3 linked regions of the Homo sapiens genome follow. The protein of the gene in region 3 purifies or fractionates together with the protein of the main gene of each other region. This does not show direct contact. Each region holds a gene or a part of one and is shown on either strand. Other genes may lie near its edges.

What was found. Proteins that work in one complex are often made in the same cells at the same time.
Region 1: the proteins of PCK2 (region 3) and ZMYM3 purify together in Homo sapiens (affinity purification with mass spectrometry; 2 studies listed by BioGRID and IntAct, with this or other methods). This does not show direct contact.
Region 2: the proteins of PCK2 (region 3) and DMBT1 purify together in Homo sapiens (affinity purification with mass spectrometry; 2 studies listed by BioGRID and IntAct, with this or other methods). This does not show direct contact.

What each region holds. Positions count from the first base shown.
Region 1 is NC_000023.11:71,250,886-71,259,493, forward strand, and holds the start of ZMYM3 (zinc finger MYM-type protein 3), read right to left. Parts: upstream 3,256-8,608; 5' UTR 3,144-3,255; intron 2,852-3,143; exon of another isoform or gene 2,689-2,851; intron 2,390-2,688; 5' UTR 2,371-2,389; coding exon 1,704-2,370; intron 717-1,703; coding exon 673-716; intron 360-672; coding exon 293-359; intron 1-292. UniProt on the Homo sapiens protein: Plays a role in the regulation of cell morphology and cytoskeletal organization.
Region 2 is NC_000010.11:122,639,919-122,644,491, reverse strand, and holds the end of DMBT1 (scavenger receptor cysteine-rich domain-containing protein DMBT1 isoform e precursor), read right to left. Parts: intron 4,453-4,573; coding exon 4,043-4,452; intron 1,371-4,042; coding exon 1,094-1,370; 3' UTR 756-1,093; downstream 1-755.
Region 3 is NC_000014.9:24,088,908-24,097,883, forward strand, and holds the start of PCK2 (phosphoenolpyruvate carboxykinase [GTP], mitochondrial isoform 1 precursor), read left to right. Parts: upstream 1-5,403; 5' UTR 5,404-5,498; coding exon 5,499-5,527; exon of another isoform or gene 5,528-5,560; coding exon of another isoform or gene 5,561-5,839; exon of another isoform or gene 5,840-5,938; intron 5,939-6,130; exon of another isoform or gene 6,131-6,223; intron 6,224-7,984; coding exon 7,985-8,230; intron 8,231-8,976. Other genes in the region: NRL (neural retina-specific leucine zipper protein), read right to left, coding at 5,561-5,839. UniProt on the Homo sapiens protein: Mitochondrial phosphoenolpyruvate carboxykinase that catalyzes the conversion of oxaloacetate (OAA) to phosphoenolpyruvate (PEP), the rate-limiting step in the metabolic pathway that produces glucose from lactate and other precursors derived from the citric acid cycle.

The DNA of each region.
Region 1 (8,608 bases), on a different chromosome or scaffold from region 3:
CCTTGGTTACTCTGTAACCTCCCAGGGAGGGAAAGGGAGAGGCTCTAAATGAGAAGATTCGGAGACAGAGATGGCATAGCTGAAACAGGAAACTCGCCATTCTCACTGCTCTTGTTTTCAATTTCCCCCACTGCCCCTGGTTCCCATGCCAACCCATAGCAGAGACAGGCACTTCATGCGCTTCATGGAGCAGGACGGCAGGAGCTAGAAGATCCATGCCCTGCCGCATGCCACTTTCGGACCTTTTCCACACCCAGAACTCCCAGGTCACACTTCCTCAAATCCTACTTACTGCTCTCAGTGGAATCTACAACCTCAGGTTTTGGAGGTTCTGCTCTCCTAACGCGCTCGCTTCTCTTCTGTACCTCGGAAAGATGGGAGGGGAGGAAAACTGACACCCTGGCCAGGCTAACACTAGTACAGGGTTTGGGGGGGGATAGAAGATGGGAGGGGGAAGGGAGAGTGGGGACCCTTGGCCCAGCCCTTAGGAGGAGGGAAGAAAAGGAGGTTGGACTTTCTCCCCAACAAGCAGTAGACACTAGTGCTCCCTCCCTCCTCCTAACTCTCCTTACACACACTCTCTACAGAACAACATCTGGGAGGGAAAATGAAGGGTCTGTCCTTCCCAGAGCTAAGGGGGAACCAGACTCCTTCCAATCCCCTCCCCCTCACCCGTTCAGGCGGCTTCTCACTCGCCTTCGCAGTCAGGCCATCTCCTGCAAAGGAAGCAGAAGGCAGCCTAAATGTTGAGCCTGCCCTCACCACCCTCTCCCCGGCCCAACCCCCGCCTCCATTCCTGGGGAAGAACTTACTCAAAACTGAAAGGGAAAACTCGAGTGCCTGTGGCTTCTTGGGGCCCCTCTCAGGGTTACCTCAGGCTCTGTACTAAGGGTGGGGGGGTGCACGTGCAGCTATTCCATGAAAAAAAAAAAATCTATCCTTCCCACCAGCTTTCTGTCCCAATCCTTGGGGGTTAAGGAAACACAGGTAATATACCTTTCATTAAGAATTTATATTTTACCAATGAAAAACACACACAACCACCCAAAGGTAGCAAAAGGAAAAGGAAGCATCAGTGTATGGGTAGCTTCCCCTGGATTCAGGTGGTTATATAAGCCCTAAGACCCTCGTCACAGCCTGATAGAGGCACACCACTAGGCAGAAGAGGGGAGACACTAGAGCCTCTCAAGTCAAGGTTGTCCCTCCCCTATCAGAGACGCAATCCTAGACCCTGCATTTCTATCGCTCTGCTGAAATCCTTATGCTGTTAGGGGCTCCAGAACCTAGTTACCATTCATCAAACCCAGAAATCCCACTCCCATCTAGAACCAAAAAGCTGTAAAGGTCTTAGAACCAAGAAGCCTGGTGTACTCCCCCAAATCCTGAAGGAAGGACTCTGGCACCAAAAGCCCACTGGGGTAGGAAAAAGGGAACCCTTCCCACCAAATTCACTCCTCCCAACCTACGCTCCCTGAAACCTTACCCCATTCCTCCCCCACAGCCTGTGCCCACCCCTACTTTCCTTAATCTTCCTCTACACACCACCCCACTCCTCCCTCGTAAACCCCAAGTCCTTCCCCACACACATCCCTACACTTATCTCTCCACCCTCCTCCTCCCCACTACTTCCCAAAGCACATAGCCACCCCTCCTTACCACCACCCTCTCCCAGCCCTGATTCTCCAGATAATTAGGCAACCTACCTGGCAAGGAAGGATGTGCAGGGGGGCTAGAGCCCCCAGGTTTGGTCTGAGAACTGTTGATTCCATCCCCCAGAGTCTCTCCCACTGAAGGGCTAGGCGGGGCATTTGGGCTCTGTGGCTGCCCTTGGGGAAGCTCCTCCTCCTGCCCAGGGGAGCCCCTTCTTGCAGTAGCTATGGAGGTGGTCTCCTCCTCTTCAATATGTGGGGACTGCAGTGTTATTGGAGAATCTGGAGCCAAAGGCTCTAGTAGCCCCTCAGGTGAACAGGAATTTGCCCCAGCCCCTGGATCAGGTGGTACCACCTCAGGGGTCTGGCCCCCTGGTCCAGGCTCTAGGGTCTGATCTCCTGCATCCCATGCCAGGGTTCCCTCAGGACCGTGGTCCACCTCCGGGGGAGAGGGGGCTTTATAGAGCAGCCCCCCCAGCCCCAGCAACTCAGTGGCTCCATCCAGGACTCCAGGGTCTTTTTCCAGGCCAGCAGGGGTATCAAGCAGGTCCAGGGCTCCCGAGGATGGAGAAGGGCCAGGGGGGGCCCATCCTCGAGTTGGGGCAGTCTGGGATTCCAGTAGATCCTCTCCAAATTCCATGTCTACTGGTAGGTCTCCAGCCAGGGGCTTCTCTGGCAGGGTCAATGGGTCAAATGGACTGGGGAAATCACTGGGGTCCATGAGTATGGCTGGATATGTACTGCAGATTAGGAGTAGAAGAGGGGGCAGTAGAGGTGGTCTTAGCCTGAATTCCTTCTTATATAGGCTCTGAGACACACCCCATCATCCACTTGGATTTCTCATGAGCAGCCCCCACCACCACAATCTACAAGCATTTCCGAAGGCTTTAGTCCTAATGACCACTCCCCCCAATACAGCGCCCCCAGTGGGGAGAGGCGTTCCCCGCCCTGGCCCCGTGCCCACACTGGCCAGGCAGTCGGTCGTTCTACCCGCCCACCCCCCTACTCGACTGCAACTCCCATTCCCTTCCCCCCTTACCTTTTACCCCCCGCAACTCAGGCTGAACGCCCCCTTAGAGTCTCCTAAGGCCGTCGCCACCAGGAGCCTTTCCCGCCCCCGCGATCTCAGTTTCTATTCCCTCCCCACTCTGCAGGAGCCCCCCAGCTCCCCAGTCTTTACCCACCCTGTCTGGCCCCACCCCCCCTCCCCGCGTTGCTAGGTCCTCCCTCGGCCCTTCCCCCGCCCCCACAAACTGCCCTTCGCAACCCCTTCCCCCCAGTTACCTTTCAGGTCGCCCACTTCCTCAGCCCCGTCCCCCTTTCCCATTGCTCCTCCAGTCCTCCCTTCTCCTGTTGCCCACCCCCAACCTCAGGCATTTACAGGAAGACATTTTGGAGCTACGATCTCTCCTTAGACCCCCCCACCACCGCCTCCCGGCTACTGCAAGATCCCGCTTGCAGGTTCGGTTCGGCTTGAGCAGGCCCGACCCCTACCTGCGGCAGGGTTAGTGCAAAGGCTACAAGCCTAGAACTGCAGACAGCGACGGCCCCGCGCTCCTTCTCTACCTCCCTCCCTAGCAGCCGGGACAGGGGTCGCGGCCCCTTTAAATGGCAGCGCCGCTCGCAGCGCCCAGCGCTCTGCACCAGGCGGGCGGGCGGTGCCAGCAACCAACCCCATTGGCTGGCTCGAGGAGGGGGCTCGCGAGACAGCGCCGGCCCCCGGCGCGAGACTCCCAGTCCAGTGGCCGCCTGGAAATTGCGGAGTGGAATGCAGCCACTAGAGACGGCGCCTGAGCCCCCGCCCGGGGCCCCGTTAGTTGAGAAGGAAAAGATAGCCTCTGGAGCTTTGAAGCCGGCCCCCCGGGAAAGGCGGCGTCCCCTTTCCACCCAAGGGCCGAGTGCGCTCACCCACAAAAAACACAGATCTACGCACCTGCTCCCCTTACCTGGCTCAAGAGTCTGGCCCCCGTCACACCCTGCTCGCCCTACCTCCTGGAGCCCACTCTACCCGTGATCCCCTCCTCTCATTCAAATGGTTCCCGGTCCCCTCCCCCTCCCCGTGTCTCTCTTAGCTTCCCACTCGTGTTCACCCCCTCGGCGTCCGCCCCCCTCAATAGTCCCTACCTACGCCATGCAGCAGGCGCCTGCCAAGATTACCCTCCCCCATCCCCACCTCTCCGGGTCCCGCCCCCTGGGCGACTGTTGGGGTAGTGAGTGACAGCGGAGGACGGGGGGAGGCAGGGACCCAGCCCTCACGTGCCCCTCCTTCCCTTGTCTGCAGCCACGGGGCCCCCAAAACAGTCTGAGAGTCAGAGTTATGGGGTATCTGAAGCTTGATCCCCAGCCACACAGGTCGGGTTAAATGGCTCTGGCTCAGTGGCAACGCCTGTGCAGTAACCGTTACTGCTTGATGACCCCCAAACCAGGTCCTGCAAAGCTACCCCCTACTCTCTCAACAGTCTTAGGGTAAGTTCTGGGATCTTCTCCCTGAGTCTTCCTGCAGGAGCTCCCTGTATTATCTATGGAGTTTTCCTCCCTCACCAGGGCTGATCTCTCTCTCTCTCTCTCTCTCTCTCTCTCTCTCTCTCTCTCTCTCTCTCTCTCTCTCTCTCTCTGTATCTCTCTCTCTCTTTCTCCTCCAGCCCCCTTTCTGTCCTTGTCTGTCTCTCTCTTCTCGCTCTCTCTCTCTCTCTCCCCCTATCTCTTTTTGTCTCCTTCTCTGCCTCTCTGCTTCTCGTGCGCACGAGCACGCAGGCGCGCTACACGCTCCCCCCTCCTGGATGGTCCTTAGCATGTGGGTGTGGCTGAGGTTAGGCTAGAGAAGTGGAGTAGGGGTAGGTGGCACTAGCGTTAAGCCTACTGCCTTTAAAAAATTGTGCCAGCATCCATTCTCAGTCCGCATTATATTAATAGTTAGAGCACTTTACAATCCCCGCTCCCCACTTCCCACCACAGCCCCTAAGGGCTGAGAGCATTTAGTAGCCGAACTACTAGAGGAGGCTCAGGCTGGAAGGAAGTCTCCTTAGGAACAGGAAGGTTTGGTATCCAGTGCCTATTCTAGCCTGCCTCGTTGACTTCTGGCCTCTCCTCCTGGCCACACAAAGCCTCTCCTGCTCTTGTAGTCCTCGGGAGTTTACCCTCCCTTTTCTCATTCCTTTTCCCAGAAACCTTATCCTTGCTAGCTCCCCACATGGCCTTGAGGTTATCTTTGCTCCCTCCTACATACAGAGATAAAAGCCAGAGTTTCTTACTTTTAGATTTCCCAAATCCAGCTTTCTCTTTGTCTTAACCAGCATTCTGTGTACCCATCTCCTACCTCCTGTTTATTTCTATTCCTGGACCTCCCCTTTGCATTTTCTGCTTGTTCCATCTCAGTTGAGCCACCTAGTTTTTTCTGTATTGCCTGCCTTCCTCAACATATACTTGAATCCTTGGCTGCTCTGCTTGTGGAGGTGCCTGGTCACTATCTTTCAAGTTGAGGGGAGCTGATCTAACGGGGTTAAGTGGTGTGTTATTAATTCTAGACGCAGTGTGGTGGCCTAAGAATGGGTTCTGGAGTCAGACCAGATTTCTAATATCAGTTCTGCCTACTTTTTAGCCAGGTGACTTTGGACAAGTGACTTGTCAAGTGAAGGGCCTTAGTTTTCTCCTCTTTAAAACAGATAAGGAAACAATCTAAATGCCCAATAATAGGGGATTTTGGTTATGCAACAGACGTAGTCATTAACAACCACATTTTAAGTCTGGCGCAGTGACTCACGCCTGTAATCCTGGCACTTTGGGATGCCAAGACGGTTGGATCCTTTGAGCCCGGGAGTTCCAAACCAGCCTGAGCAACATGGTGAAACCCCTTCTCTACAAAAAATACAAAAAATTAGCAAGGTGTGCTGGTGTGCACCTGTAGTCCCAGCTACTCAGGAGGCGGAGGTGTGAGGATCACTTGAGCTGGGAGGCAGAAATTGCAGCGAGCTCAGATGGCGCCACTGCACTCCAGCCCGGGGCGACAGACGAGGGCTCTGTCTCAAACCAAACAAAACAAAACCCCACATTAAAAAAACAAAAACAAAAAACAACTAATGGCAGACAGCACAGAGGATTTTTACGGTAGCGAAAATACTCTCATGATACTGTAATAGTGGATACTTGTAAGTATACATTTGTTCAAAGATACAGAATGTAAACACCAAGGGTGAACTAACTCTAATGTAAACCGCAGGCTTTGGTTAGTAATGATGTGTTAATGTAGGTTCATCGATTTTAACAAATTTACCACTCTGATAGGGATGTTGGTAGTCAGGGGAGCCGTGACTGCATGGGGGAAGGAGGTATATGGGACTCTCCGGACCTACCTGTCAGTTTTGCTGTGAAACTAAAATTGCTCTTAAAAAATAAAATCTTTATTTAAAAAAATTAAAACCCATAGAATGTACAACACCAAAAGGAAGCCCTTATGTAAACTATGGCCTTTGGTTGATAATGTGTCACTGTATATTCATCACTGCAAGAAATTTACCACTCTGGACAGGATGTTGATAGGGAGGCTGTGTCTGTGTGTGGAGAGGGGTACAAAGGACTCTTGATACTTTCAGCTCAATTTTGCAGTGATGCCAAAACTGCTCTAAAAAATAAAGTGGGCCTGGTGCAGTAACTCCTGTAATCCCAGCACTTTGGGAGTCAGGAGAATCGCTTGAACCCGGGAGGCGGAGGTTGTGGTAAGCTGAGACTGAGCCACTGCACTCCAGCCTGGGCCACAGAGCGAGACTTCATCTCTCAAATATATATATATATATGTTTTGTTTTGTTTTGTTTTGTTTTTGAGACGGAGTCTTGCTCTGTCGCCCAGGCTGGAGTGCAGTGGCCCAATCTCAGCTCACCGCAAGCTCCACCTCCCGGGTTCACGTCATTCTCCTGCCTCAGGCTCCCGAGTAGCTGGGACTACAGGCGCCCGCCACCACGCCCGGCTAATTTTTTGTATTTTTAGTAGAGATGGGGTTTCACCGTGTTAGCCAGGATGGTCTCAATCTCCTGACCTCGTGATCCACCCGCCTCGGCCTCCCAAAGTGCTGGGATCACAGGCGTGAGCCACCGCGCCTGACCGTAAATAAAATTTTTATTTAAAAAAATTTAGGCCGAGCGCAGAGGCTCACGCCTGTGATCCCAGCACTTTGGGAGGTCGAGGTGGGTGGATTGCTTGAGCTCAGGAGTTGGAGACCAGACTGGGCAACACGGTGAAACCCCATCTCTACCAAAAGCACAAAAAATTATCCAGGCGTAGTGGTGCACGCCTGTGGTCCCAGCTACTCAAGAGGGTAAGGCTGGAGGTTGCAGTAAGCCGAGATTGTGCCACTGTCCCCAGCCTGGGCGATAGAGCAAGACTCTGTCTCAAAAAAATAAATAAATATATAAATAAAAATAATTTTCTGCATTTTGTATTTACTAAACTTTTTTTTTTTTTTTTTGAGACAGAGTCTCACTCTGTCTCCCAGGCTGGAGTGCAGTGGCATGGTCTCGGCTCACTGCAACCTCTGCTTCTCAGGTTCAAGCGATCCTTATGCCTCAGCCTCCCGAGTAGCTGGAACTACAGGCGTGTGCCACCACACCAGCTAATTTTTGTATTTTTTTTAGTACAGATGGGTTCCACCATGTTGGCTATGGTTGGTCTCGAACTCCTGACCTCAAGTGATCCACCCACCTCGGCCTCCCAAAGTGCTGGGATTGCTAAAGGCGTGAGCCACCACTCCCAGCCTTGTATTTTCTAAACTGTTCTACTGAGCACATATTGTTTTTATAATCATGAAAAAATGTTAGCACCTAAAAATAAGGGCTGGCCAGGCACGGTGGGAGGCCGCACTTTGGGAGGCCGAGGCGGATGGATCATTTGAGGTCAGGACTTCAAGACCAGCTTGACCAACGTGGTGAAACCCGTCTCTACTAAAAAATACAAAAATTAGCTGGCGTGGTGGCAGCTCAGGAGTTCGAGACAAGCCTGGGCAACATGGTGAAACCCTGTCTCTACCAAAAATACAAAAAATTATCTGAGGGCAGTGGTGCATGCATGTGGTCCCAGCTACTCGGGAGGGTAAGGCTGGAGGTTGCAGTGAGCCAGGATTGTGCCACTGCCCTCCAGCCTGGGTGATAGAGCAAGACCCTGTCTCAAAAAATATATATATATAAATAAAAATAATTTTCTGCATTTTGTATTTCCTTTTTTTTTTTTTTTGAGATGGAGTCTCGCTCTTGTTGCCCAGGTTGGAGTGCAGTGGCGCGATCTTGGCTCACTACAACCTCCACCTCCCAGGTTCAAGCGATTCTCCTGACAGGCTTAATTTTTTTGTTTTTGTTTTTGTTTTTGAGACGGAGTCTCGCTCTGTTGCTCAGGCTAGAGTGCAGTGGCACAATCTTGGCTCACTGCAAGCTCCGCCTCCCAGGTTCACACCATTCTCCTGCCTCAGCCTCCCTGTAGCTGGGACTACAGGCACCCGCCACCATGCCCAGCTAATTTTTTGTATTTTTAGTAGAAACGGGGTTTCACCGTGTTAGCCAGGATGGTCTCGATCTCCTGACCTCATGATCTGCCCGCCTCAGCCTCCCAAAGTGCTGGGATTATAGGCGTGAGCCACCGTGCCTTGCCAACATTTTGTTTTTTAAGGAGTCGATGTGCATAGAAAGAGGCTGGCTTTTACAGTCAGAAAGATGAGGATCCAAATCCTGATTCTACCATTGAGTATTTATACAGCCACTTTGAACCTCAGTGTCCACAAATGTAAAATGGAGATAATACCTCATAGAGATGCTATTAAGTGAAATGTACACCTGCCTGACCACAGGTGCTCAATAGATACTGGTTATTGTTATTATTTTATTTTATTATTATTGAGATGAAATTTCGCTTTTGTCTCCCAGTCTGGAGTACAATGGCGTGATCTTGGCTCACTGCAACCTCTGCCACCCAGGTTCAA
Region 2 (4,573 bases), on a different chromosome or scaffold from region 3:
CTGCCTCCTGGTGCATAACAGTCCTTCATTAAACATGCATTGAATGAATGAACAAGTGAGGAAAGAGTCTGGACTCAGGTGGACATAAAGACGGCCTGAATAGGAATCAAGAGGAAAGAGCTGTCAAAGATGCCCCATGGGCAGCGCCCTGACCAAGGAGAGGGCTTGTGACAACTACTGCTGCCCCACCCACCCCCAACACCATGGCCACCACATCTGTTGACCTAGCCCCAGACTGGGCCAGAAATCCTGGGCATCACTCTGCAAACATTCATTCCCTCGTCCATGCCCACAACACAGCAGCACAGCCGCACAGCAACACAGCAGCACAGCCGCACAGCCGCACAGCCGCACAGCCGCACAGCATCACAGCATGACAGCAGCACAGCCGCACAGCATCACAGCAGCACAGCATGACAGCAGCACAGCAGCGCAGCATCACAGCCGCACAGCAACACAGCAGCACAGCCGCACAGCAACACAGCAGCACAGCAGCAGATGCACTCCCTGTTCTGGAGAAGAAAAGTGACATAGCTTGTGCCCAGTAGAGCCTGCCAGCGATCAGGACAAATCCATGCAGCTGGCGTCCCCATGGCCCTGTCTAGACCCTGATGTCAACACGTCTGCTGTTATAGTTATTATCGTTGTGAGGAATACTGTCATCATTGGTGTTGTTAACATGGGTGACAACAACAGGAGTAACAAAAACTACCATTTACCAAGCACTCAATGACTTGCACCAGGAACAGGCTGAGGCAGTTTCACCAAAATTCCTTTATGTAAGTAACCCTCTCAACAGTGCTAAGAAGTAAGTATTGACATTTTCATTTTGCAGATGAGAAGCATGGATTCTGGGACGTCAGGTCTATGGGCCATCCAGGTCAGAACTCTCTTGACCTCACCCTGCAACGGGTCCTCCAAGGACCATGAGCCTTGGGGGAGGCGGGAACCAGGTCTGATTCAACTCCGTATGACCAGGTGCAGCACAATGTAGGGCTCAATCTGAGTTGGAATATGACACCAAGAGGAACATCCCAAGTCCCCGAGTCAGGGGTCTGCGCCCCGGTGGACAGTGGGGTCTGAGAGCGACCACCTACCGAGGCTCCTCTTCTCGGCGTGGGGGGGTCTGCAGCTGGATGGGACCCAGGACGACGTCCACCTTTTCCTGGTAGGAGCCCACATCCCTCTTCGACCTCAACACACAGCCTCGGTAGCAGCGGGAAGAGGGGTCATACGCTCTGCACACCACCATTTTACAACGCAGGTACACGGAGGGGAAGCGGTTCAGGAAGTGGAAGGCCCTGAACCGGAAGCGGGCAATGCGAAGAGATGGCGAGGAGTAGGGTCCGTAGGTGTCATCCCTCACGCATCTGGAAGAGAACAGTAGCCCCTTAGCTCTCACCAAGGCCCGATTCTTCCTTCATGACTCAGTTGTACCAGGTGAGGAACTCCACAGCCTGTCCTCACTGCCCCTGCCTCCTGCACACCTCACCTTCCTTCTGTCAGAACGTGTGGATCAGACACTCACTGAGGGGCCTGCAGAGAAATCCTGGCAGCTCCGGTACCTCACCGCCATCCTTAGGCAGCAAAGCCTGTGAGAGCTTTCCCGATAGACAAGCAGGTCCCATACTGCACAGTGGGTTGAGGCCTAATCCCACAATGACCACATGCTCCATGCACCCAGGTAAACCAGATGAGTCAGGGAAGTAGCTGGAGTTTGGAGCCCAGGAGCGGGACCCAGAGACAGGGCAGAAAAGTAAATGACCTTCCCTTCTCTCACCTGGTGTCAGGGCCAGGCAAGGTCTCATTCGGCTGCACTCTGAGTACAGTGCCCTGACCCTCCCTCTCCCAGGGCCTCTCTTTCCTGACCCTCCTCAGCCTGCCCTGAGCCCCATGCAGCTGTACGTTCCACACTGGCCTGCGAACCCTCCAGGAGCCCCTATACCGATATAAACCCCCTCCTCATTCCCTGGGGCACCTCCTCTCAGCAGGGGTCAGAGGGAAAATAACCTAAGGATATGCTTACAGGAATTTTCCTAAGATGGAAGAAGCAGCTCACACTAACCCAGTTATTATAGATTGGTGGGATTTTGAAGGGCATGGCAAAGAGAAAAGCCAGGAAAACTGGCCCACTGGCCTAGGATGGGCATTTCTCGTGGGTGGTGGATGTGGTCTCCAGGGCAGTCTGGCTCAGCCTGGGAACCTGGCCAGGATCTGCTCCCCTCCTTCTGTCTTCTAGAGCCTCCTTCCTTCCTCCATAGGCAACCCAGATTCTCTCAAATACCAAGTTTTCTTTTTTGTTTTTGTTTTTTTTTTCACAGTAGCTCCCTTAGTGGCAAAGGAGGAAGCAAAAATAGCCAGAGGCTTGTTCAGAGGTGGGACACTTGGGAAAAAGGTCAGGGTCACTTAGAAGCCCCTGGGCAGTCATTGCATTTGCCGTAAAACCCTGCCATTCAGGGCTCCACGCAGACCAGAATGCCACAGCGAAGCCACAGCCATGACTCCACCTCAGAATCACTCAAGATTTTTTAAACGTAACATGCCCAAGCCCCACCAGGCCAAACAGAGAATGTATGGGTAGGGCCTGGGCAGGGTGTGTTTGGAGCCCCAGGTCATTCTAATGGACTTCCAGGTGGATGATCTTGTTGATGGCCAGGTGTAGCCAATAAGTCCCTGTGCTCCAGGTATAGCCAGGGTACATCTACCCCTGCACACACATCCCCGTCTTCCCAGCAAATTGCATTGTCATATAGAAATGGCAGGATTTGACCAGAAAGAATCCTTTGGCAAGGAAGAACTAAGGTCACCCACTCATTTTCATTAATGTCAATCAATTCACACAAATTCAAAAGTCACCTTATGACTATTTGTACAACGGGAATCTGGTTAAGCTTTCTCCCCTCCTCTCAGCCACCAAGGGGGCTGCTGTGAATTGAGCAAGCTGCATAGACTGTAAACAAGGTGAGCCTCAACACCTACCTACTGAACTGACATATGTTCACACTGTGCCTGGAAAGAGGTGCTACGTTTAGCATATCAAGAGGGTGTCGAATTGAATCTGCCCACCTCTAATTCCTAGTAGAACTCTTTATCCTATTGGTATAAATTCTCTTGGAAGGCAATGGCTACTGAAGTGTCCAGGTCTATATTGTAAGCCAAGAAGTGTGGTACACATCTATCAACAGAGACTTCAGAGGGGGCTGGAGTTGCACATCATGGTGTCATCATGAGTGCAGAAGAGTCAAACCCCACTTCACCCACATGCAGTCATCCAGGGAAGCTGGGCTATGGTAGAGCAGCCCAGCCTGCACACCCTCTGGCCCCAGCCTGACATCTCTGGCCTGACCTCTGCACCTCCTGAGCTTGACTGGAACCCGTGGACTCCCAGAGCTTCTATTCCCAGGCTGAAGGAGGGCAGCAGGGCTCCTGCCATCTTCAGTGCACATTCCTGGTGGACCACCTGCTGCACACTCTCTGTGCTCAGTGCCACATCCACTCTCTCTCATCCCATCCTCCCAACAGCCTTACAATGTGCGTGTCATTATCCCCACTTGACAGGCGAGCAACTGGTCCATAGAGGTGCTTTCACTGGCCCAGAATCATGCAACTGGCACGTGGCAGAGCTGGCATTTCAACCTTGGTCTGCTCCAAATCAATGCTTTTCCCACTATACGCAGGTCTTTTTAACCGTATGGCTGGAGTTCAGTCACCTAGAGTCTGATCACGGTTTACAGCTAACCTGCTGAGTGAACACTGCTGAGCTGTTCTATTCTCCAGAAACCCATCTCCCCAGATGTTAACTGGAGATGATACATGGTCATCCTACCTGATGAGAAATCAGGGATGTGATACAGAACACAGAGTAAAAGCACCTCAAAGGTGAAAGCTACAGGACATCACTACATGTAGAAAGGGATCCAGTTAAGCTGGAAGTACTGGGAACTGCAGTTCATCAAAATTTGCATTCTTCAAGCCTTTGGGGCTACTCATGTTTGAGTTATCAAGTAAAGGTTTAAGGCCATCGCATAAAGACACTCCTTACCCACTCCGGATTAGATCATAAGTCAAAGACGTGAAGTCATTGGAGTATGGTGATGCCACGCAGGTGTCCACAAACAAGGTCAGTACAGCATCAGAATGGAGGATTTCAGCCTGAACGTACAAGTCCTGGTTCAGGTCCACGTAGTAAGGGCGGCTGGTCACAGGATACAAGAAAGATGAGGAAGTATAAAAGGAAATGTTCACGTCAAAATTGCCATACTGGACTTCCTCGACCTGGATGGTGTTATTAGCAACGTGGATGGTGTCATTAGCAATGTACATGGTGTCGACCCAGGTGTTCTGAAGCATTCTGCAGCTGACGTGAATACGGAGGTCTGTCCTCCTCTTGATGATGCCACCTGAGACAGCTGCTGTGAGGAAGTTGGAATAGTCGATGGTGTCATTGTCTGCCTAGGAGAGGCAGGCAAGAGAGCAGAGTCAGGCACATGTCACCTGCTAAGGGAATCCCATAGCTGATTTGGGTGTGAATGAGAGGGACGTGACTCAACAAGACTTCCACCCCTCCCAGAAC
Region 3 (8,976 bases):
CCATTCTCCTGCCTCAGACTCCGGCTGGAACTACAGGCACCCGCCACCATGCCTGGCTAATTTTTTTTTTGTATTTTTAGTAGAGATGGGGTTTCACTGGGTTAGCCAAGATGGTCTCGATCTCCTGACCTCGTGATCCGCCCGCCTCGGCCTCCCAAAGTGCTGGGATTACAGGCGTGAGCCACTGCGCCTGGCCTAATTTTTGTATTTTTAGTAGAGACAGGGTTTCATGTTGGCCAGGCTGGTCTTGAACTCCTGACCTCAAATGATCCACCCGCCTCAGCCTCCCAAAGCGCTGGGGTTATAGGCATGAGCCACTGCGCCGACCCTGAGTTATACATTTTAATCTTTTTTTTTTGAGACAGGGTCTCGCTCTGTTACCCAGGCTGGAGTGCAGTGGTGCAATCATAGCTCACTGCAGCCTTGAACTCCTGGGCTCAAGCTATCTCCCACTTTAGTCTCCCAAGCAGTTGGGACTACAGGTGCACACCACCATGCCTGGCTACTTTTTTATTTTTTGTAGAGAAGAAGTCTCACTATGTTGTTCAGGCTGGTCTTAAACTCCTGGGCTCAAGTGATCCTCCAGCCTCTGCCTCCCAAAGTGCTGGGATTACAAGGCATGAGCCACCACACCCAGCCCATTTTAAATATTTAAACACAAGGTTTGAGGGCCTCTATTTGTACTCCTGCCGCAGGTCCTACATATGTTAGAGATGTGTCTACATAAAAACAAACCATTTAAACAGAGATGAATGTGCTAAGAAGAAGAAGGGCAGGGTGCTATGAAATTTTCTTCCACGAAGACATACTCTAATACAAAGCCAGAGGGGATGCATCACAGGGACAGGTTGCCTAAGAAAGTCATGCTAAACCAAGACTGGTCAGGTGAATAAGAAGTGACCCTGCCTGGAGGTGTGGACAGGGTGGGAATTCCAGGCGGCAGAAACAACATATGCAAAGGTTGTGAGGCAGGAAAGATGTAGACATGTTCACAAAACTGAGAAAAGATCCACGTAGCCAGAGAGTAGAAAGCCTGGAAGGTGGGAAGAACAGTGATAGCTGAGGCTGGAGAAGTCAGCAGGGGCCAGATCATGCAGAGCCTGGGAGGTCACATTAAGGGTTTGGGCTTTATTCTAAGAGCAGGGAGAAGCTACTGAAGGGTTTTCAGTAGAGACATGATGTGATCAGATTTGTGTTCGGAAGGATCACGTATGTCAGCACTTTGTGTTTGTGGAGGAAGGCAACAATGAAATAAGAGTCAGATTAGAGGACTAATGCCGTAACCAAGTTGAGCCTGAGGAATATTTGCAACTGGAAGCACACTCTGAGACAGAAACTTGTGTGCAGGTGGTTTACTCGGGGGGGGGGGGGGGGCACGGGGGGGGACTTTCAAAGAAAGAGTAGCAGGACCCAAGAGAGGGAACAGTTGAATGGCACTGCAGTTGTAATCAGCTGAGCCTAAAGAGCTCTGGGGCTGGGATGGACCTTCAGAGTTGTCCCAAACTGAGACAAAGGGCTAGGCCTCTGTACTTTATAACAACCATTCATTGGATACATACTGCCCCCAGGAAGCGGGCATTGCATTTGGTGAGACAGCTCCCTTTGGCCACAGATAGTGCTCAAGGAAGTACTCAGCTGTGAGCTATCAGCAGCCAACACTCAGCAGCTGGAACAATGAGCATCATGATCCTGAAGCGGGAATCTGGGCTACACACCACAGCATCACTACTCGGGCTGTGAGACTTCAGGGATGAACCCAGAGGCCCCAGAGAGGACAATGCAGATCACACTCTGCCCCCTGGTGGTACTCCTTGGACATAGGGCCAGCTGGTGGGCCAGGCTCTCCCGGCAGGGAACTAAAGAAAAGTGTGTGGCAGATAAGGGGAAATGAGCAGTGCAAGGAAATCTGCACGTGAGCCCCTTGCTCCATCTGCCTAAAGCTAGAGAAGAAAGTAATGGTGGGGAAGAAGAATTCAGAAACGTGGCACTCATTCATTCTTTTATTCAACCAACTTTTATTAAGTGCCTGTTATAGGCCAGGTACTGCTGGGAACTAGGAGAAAAACAAGACTGAAATCATCACTCTAGTGAGGATTACAGAGATATAAAAGTAACTACAGTATAGTAAAGTACAAAAATATAGGCATATACATGGGATAGAAGCAACACAGATGAAATAGATGTTCATTCTAAGGGACGAACAGAAAAGGCCTGTGTGTGTGTGTGTGTGTGTGTGTGTGTGTGTGTGTGTGTGTGTGTTAGAGACAGAGTCTCACTGTGTTGCCCAGGCTGGAGTGCAGTGGTGCGATCTCGGCTCACTGCAACCTCCGCCTCCCGGGTTCAAGCGATTCTCCTGCCTCAGCCTCCTGAGTAGCTGGGACTACCGGCGTGCGCCACCACACCAAGCTAATTTTTGTATTTTTAGTAGAGACGGGGTTTCACCATGTTGGCCAGGATGGTGTGTGTTTAATTTGAGTGCAGATGCCCAGAAAAAGTTCACAGAAGTGCTCTGGAAACTTCAGAGTTCAGTACGTAGGAGAAAAGGAGGCAAGTGGGGATGTGGGGGTGACAACATTAGATAAATAGGAGTCAGATTATGAAGGACATAAGATATCATGTGATGGAAAGAGCCTGGAAGAGATTTTAAGCTTAAGAGTGATATGATCTAATTTTTAATGGTAAATCAAGGGGACAGTATAGGATTTATAGGGAGAGGGGGACTTGGTAATTAGAGTCAGAAAGATATGGATTCAGATTCCATTTCTCCTGCTAACCATTTGTGTGACTTTGAGCAAATGACTCTTTTTTTTTTCAATATACACAAAGCAATTTTATTTGTATGTACTTGTGGTAAACAATTAGAACATTTCATTCATAATAGGATAAAAGTATAAAATATTCATGAATAATTTTTTTTCAGAACAGGAATGGAAGTTTATTAAAAAGCTTTAGAGCAGGAATGAAAGAAAGGAAAGTACACTTGGAAGAGGCCCAAGCAGGCATCTTGGAGGTCAAGTGCGGCATTTGACCTTTGATTTAGGGTGTTATATGTTGGCATACTTCTGGGGTCCTGCCTCCCTTTTTCCTTGATTCTTCCCTTAGGGTGACCGAGCAAATGACTCTTTAAGCCCGTGTCCACATATGTAAAATATAGTTGTGAAACAGAATGAGATTATGCATGCAGAGTTGCTGACACAGAGCCTGGCACCTACTGTCCATAGCATAAACATTATTCTTCTCTCTTAACTTTCCAAGTGGATTTGCATGCACAGTGTGGGGAGTGGCTTGGTAGGGAGAGGGGTTGGTGTTTGGAGAGGCAGGAGTCCAAGAAGTGCCTTAGAAGCTATCACCTGAAGCCAGGTGAGAGATAAGCCCTGAACTAAGGCCCTGGCCATGGGGATAGTTGCAGACTTGAGGGCTAATTGAGAAGTACAATTCCAAAGGTCCTGGCATCTGATTAGCTATGCAGGATAAGAATAGTCTAGACTGATTCCCTTTGGGGCAACTGGCCAGATGATGGTGCCATTTGCTGAGGTAGGAAACCATGAGAGCAGGTGCAGGATTATGGAGAAGATGATGACCTTCAGGTCAACCATGCTGCCACCAGTGTGCACACCTTTAGGCCCAAAGGTTGGCCAAGAGGTATGTGTTTGCAGCTGGGTAAGTGTGGACAGAGTTTGGATCTATGAACTGGGGGGAAAGAGATCCAAATACATATACCTGAGGTTGAGTGTAGGCTAGAGCCTGAGGGGGAAGAGACGGGGACCAGTAGCAAGCCCGTGGCTGGAGACCAGCTCTCCTTATCCCACTATGTTCCAGCATAGAACTCCAAGAAATCTGAGAATCAAGACTGTTTCTGTTGCAAGTGGCAGAACTCCAATTAAAATTAGCTTGAGCAAGAGAAGAAATGCATCAATTCCTGTAACTGAAATCAGGAATCCATTGCTCGCCATCTCCCTGCTCTGCTTCCTCTAGGCTGGCTTCTGTCTCAGCCAGGTTCCTGCTTTGCAGTGCCAAGCTAACACTCAGCAGCTCCAGGCTTATATTCTACCAGCTCAGCAACTCAGCAGAAAGAGAGCTAACTTCCAAAGTTTTAGAAAAAGTCCCAGAGAGGGATCTCATGCCCATCCTTGAACATCCTTGATTGCTGTGGCCAGAGTGAGGAACACAAAAGTTGGCTAAGCTGCAAGCCTACCCCCAAGAGGGGTGACATCAGACCCACATGACAATACAGACTGAGGAGATGGTTCCCCAAAAGAAAATCAGGGTGCTATTACCAGAAAAGGCGAGTGGATGCTGAGCAGACACCCATCATAGATATGCTGAGTTTGAGGTGCTATATAGCATTGTGGGTGATATCCAGTGGTCTCAGGTTGGAGAGAGATGTCCCAATGGAGGTATAGCTTGAGAAATCACCTGAGGACTTTATGATGGTAGTTGGGTGGGCAGATGAGTTTCCTCATTGGATTGTGGAGAGAAAGAATGACCAGGCCGGGCGTGGTGGCTCACGCCTGTAAATTCCAGCACTTTGGGAGGCCAAGGCAGGCGGATCACGAGGTCAGGAGTTGGAGACCAGCTTGGCCAGCATGGAGAAACCCCGTCTTTACAAAAAATACAAAAAATCAGCCGAGTGTGGTGGCAGGCGCCTGTAATTCCAGCTACTCTGCAGGTTGAGACAGGAGAATTGCTTGAACCCGGGAGGCGGAGTGTGCAGTGAGCCGAGATCGCGCCACTGCACGCACTCCAGCCTGGGTGACAGAGTAAGACTCCGTCAGGGGAAGAGGGGATGTGCCGGGGGAGGAGAATGACCAGATCAGAGGACCAAGGAAGAGACCCAGGGGTAGAGAGACTCCACCATTTCATGGCAAGGCAGAAAGGAGCCTTGATCAGGAGGAGAAACGGGGATTTAGGAGTTGGGGACTAAGTGGACCTTAGCATTGGGCACTTGGACTACAGAAAGGCCCAGGACTCAGGGTGTCGCGTCCCCAGGAGGAGGAACTGGAAAGGCAATGCCCAACCCCCTAACTTCTAGACGTCTGGCCCCTGTAGTCTCCCGCCCCTGGCCTCGCCCCTCGTTCCTAGCTTGTTTGCCACCTAGTGTCTCTCCCGGGAGCAAGAGTCCTCAAAGTTACATCATGTGCGGCTGGGAGGGCGGTGGCGGATGGGGGGCGGGGCCTCGAAGTCGGGGGCCGAAGAGTGGACCCAGTCCTCCAATGGGAGAGATGGGTTTGGCGGTTTGGAGGCAGGGGTTGGGGCGGCGGCTGGGCTGACCTGGAGCCTGGAGCCCCGGGGCCGAGGGAGCTGGCCTGCCAGCGGGGCGGAGGAAAGCTAGTGCCAGCCCTACCAGGTTCCGCCCCCGCGCCTGCCCCCCTCCTTTTTAAGCGCCTCCCGCCAGCCTCTGCTGTGGCTCGCTTCGCCGCGCTCCCTCCTTCCCCGCCTTCCATACCTCCCCGGCTCCGCTCGGTTCCTGGCCACCCCGCAGCCCCTGCCCAGGTGCCATGGCCGCATTGTACCGCCCTGGCCTGCGGTGAGTGACCCCCGGCCCGGGGCCCACCCGCACCTTCCGCTGCGCTCGCCCCCTCGGGGCTGCCAGTGGCGCTCTCCTGCTCTCAGCCTCCGCCAGGTTTCCCATCCTAGGCGGAGGCGGGCAGGGGCGACTGCTGTGGGTCCAGCCTCCCGCGCCGCGCGTCTCTTGGGAGGGCAGCCGGCCGGTGCTCCTCGTTTCCGCCTGCACCTCCCCTTCTCTGCCTCGCTCGCCTCTGACCGCGCGATCTCTATCTGCCACTCTCAGAACTTCCTCTCTCTCCTCGCTCCTCTCTGCTGAGCCAGGTCTCCGCATATCCTCCTTTCCTTCCCAGATACCTCCCTCGGACCTCTAACGGGCTCTCAGCCAGCGCCCCAGGGTACTTCGAGAGGCAGCAGGGCCCTGGGGACAAGGGTACGTGAGCCCCGGGAGACTAAGCTCAGAGCCCCCTAAAGAAGGTGGAAGGTTAAATATCCATTCCCGGCCTCTCCCGGACTGGAAGGACTGGAACCTGGCGGGAAGTCCAGAGCAGCCCGAGGGACCTGGGCCCAGGGGAGGGAGGCAAGCAAGGTGGGAGGAGGGCGCCAAGTTGCCTTCGTTTCTTACATAGCTGGCTTCTTCCTCCGTCCAGGCCTGGAGCCCCCAGGCTCGTCCTGTTTGTCTGCCTGTCCTCTTAGTCTCCTATTTATTCTCTGAGGCCTCTCTTCTCAGCTTTTGTCCCAGAGTCGGAAGTGACCCACATCTGTCGCACAGCCCGTTCCACTTGGGCAGCCCTTGTGGGTGGTCTCTGAAGGAAACGTCCCACTTAGAGGGCTGCAAGAGGGTGTGGGGGCTTCACAAGAGATAACGTGAGCCAGGCTCCAGGGAGAGAGAGGCTGTCCTCAAGACTGTGTGCTTGAAAACTGATGCTCACGGAGAACTTCCCTCTGAGGCAGGAACAGACCCAGGTCCCAGTAGCCCTCCTCCCCTGCCCCTGGGGCCACACTGATCATCTATCCTGCTTTAGCGGAAACCACCCCAGCTTCTACCCCAGACAGACTCAAGCTCCCGTATCCATGCTCTGAGCTTTCTTCCTTCCCCAGGCTAACACCCTCTGAGTCTGAGCTGCCAGCAAGCTGCTGTTCCACCCTCCCACCAACACCAAAGCTCTCTAGGCATGTGGCCTCTAGGAAGAAGAGCCAGGGGAAGCACGGGGTCACGTGGTCCTGGGTGTGGGGGCAGTTTCTGATGGGCGAGGCCTTGATAGAGGAGGAGAGTAACATCCCCTTCATGGTCTTTGCTCTCTCGGGTTTACTCCACCTTGAGTCCAGGCCAATCAGAGCAGACGTTGCTTCTCTGTCTCCCAGGGCCATGAGAGGACAGACAACAGGACGCTGACCTCCTGAGAATTAAGCCCATGAACCCCAGCCAGTGACACTCATTCCCCAGTGGTCAACCTTCCGCAGAGTTCAGAAATACTTACCCGAGGGCAACATTTTATGCAACCATTGTTGGTCCAAGTGGGCAGCAGCAGATCAGGGCCTGGAAGCCCAGCATCCAGTCACCTATTCTCTGTGCAAGAGCCCTCATCTAGAAACCTGGCACTGGAAAGACTGTGACCTTTGCTTGGGGCTTTCATAGTCTTACAGCATACACACCAGAAGGAAAGAATAAACACAGCTGCCATTTTAATTTATAAAAAACTATACTTGAAAATGGAAATAAAATGGATGAGGCTTCAAATACCAGACATATGAAATTGTCACCTGGGCCCAACTTCTTGTCTTGACACTTGGGCCAAAGGCCCCTACTCATTTCTTTTTTTTTTTTTTTTTTTTTTTTTTTTGAGACAGAGTCTTGCTCTGTCGCCCAGGTTGGAGTGCAGTGTCCCGATCTCGGCTCACTGCAACCTCCACCTCCCGGGTTCAAGCGATTCTCCTGCCTCAGCCTCCTGAGTAGCTGGGACTAGAGGCACACGCCACCACATCCGGCTAATTTTTATATTTTTAGTAGATGGGGTTTCACCATGTTGCCCAGTATGGTCTTGATCTCCTGACCTCATGATCCACCTGCCTCAGCCTCCCAAAGTGCTGGGATTACAGGCATGAGCCACCGTGCCCAGCCATCTCCCTACTTATTTCTAAACGTTGATTAAACAGTTAAACATGGGCATGGGCTACACAGGCAGTAACATCAGCATGCCTACATGTATACTTCCACACAGCCAGGCATGTGCCTTTTTTGCTCATTTGGCCATATCTGTCCCTCGCTGAGCAGGAGACACCCTCCTCAAGCCTCATAAAGGCTACAAGATACATGTGTCCTGAACACATCCCACACACCAACTGCAACCTGCTCTTCATGGTCCCTGCATGCAGACATGTTTTAGCAGGCTGCAGCCCAAGCTTTCTGTCTCTCCACCACCTGCCTTGTCCACTCTCGATGACAGCAACTAGCTCATTGCCTCTGTTTCTCCTATAGGCTTAACTGGCATGGGCTGAGCCCCTTGGGCTGGCCATCATGCCGTAGCATCCAGACCCTGCGAGTGCTTAGTGGAGATCTGGGCCAGCTTCCCACTGGCATTCGAGATTTTGTAGAGCACAGTGCCCGCCTGTGCCAACCAGAGGGCATCCACATCTGTGATGGAACTGAGGCTGAGAATACTGCCACACTGACCCTGCTGGAGCAGCAGGGCCTCATCCGAAAGCTCCCCAAGTACAATAACTGGTAAGCCTTGGGCTCCACAACCTGCAGGATAGGTGCACTGAGGCCACTTTGGGTTCACCAAGGCAAAATCAACTTAACTAGAACATCCCAATGGAATGAACAAGAATGAGAGCTTTGGGGTAAACAGACCCAGAAACTGGGATTTGCTTACGCCTATAATCCCAGCACTTTGAGAGGCCAAGGCGGGTGGATCACCAGGTGTCGGGAGTTTGGGACCAGCCTGACCAACATGGAGAAACCCCGTCTCTACTGAAAAAAAAAAAAAAAAATACAAAAATTAGCCCAGCATGGCAGCGCATGCCTGTAATCCCAGCTACTTGGGAGGGTGAGGCAGGAGAATCACTTAAACCCAAGAGGCGGAGGTTGCAGTGAGCCAAGATCGCGTCATTGCACTCCAGCCTGGGCAATAAGAGCGAAACTCTGTCTCAAAAAAAAAAAAGAAAGAAACTGGGATTTTTTTTTTTTTTTGAGATGGAGTCTCACTGTATCACCCAGGCTGGAGTGCAGTGGCATGATTTCAGCTCACAACAACCTCTGCCTCCGGGGAATTGTCTCAAGCAATTCTCCTGCCTCAGCCTCCGGAGTAGCTGGGATTACAAGCATGCGCCACCACACCCAGCTGATTTTTGTATTTTTAGTAGAGACAGGGTTTCACCATGTTGGCCAGGTTGGTCTCAAACTCCTAACCTCAAGTGATCCACCCACCTCAGCCTCCCAAAGTGCTGGGATTACAGGCATGAGCCACT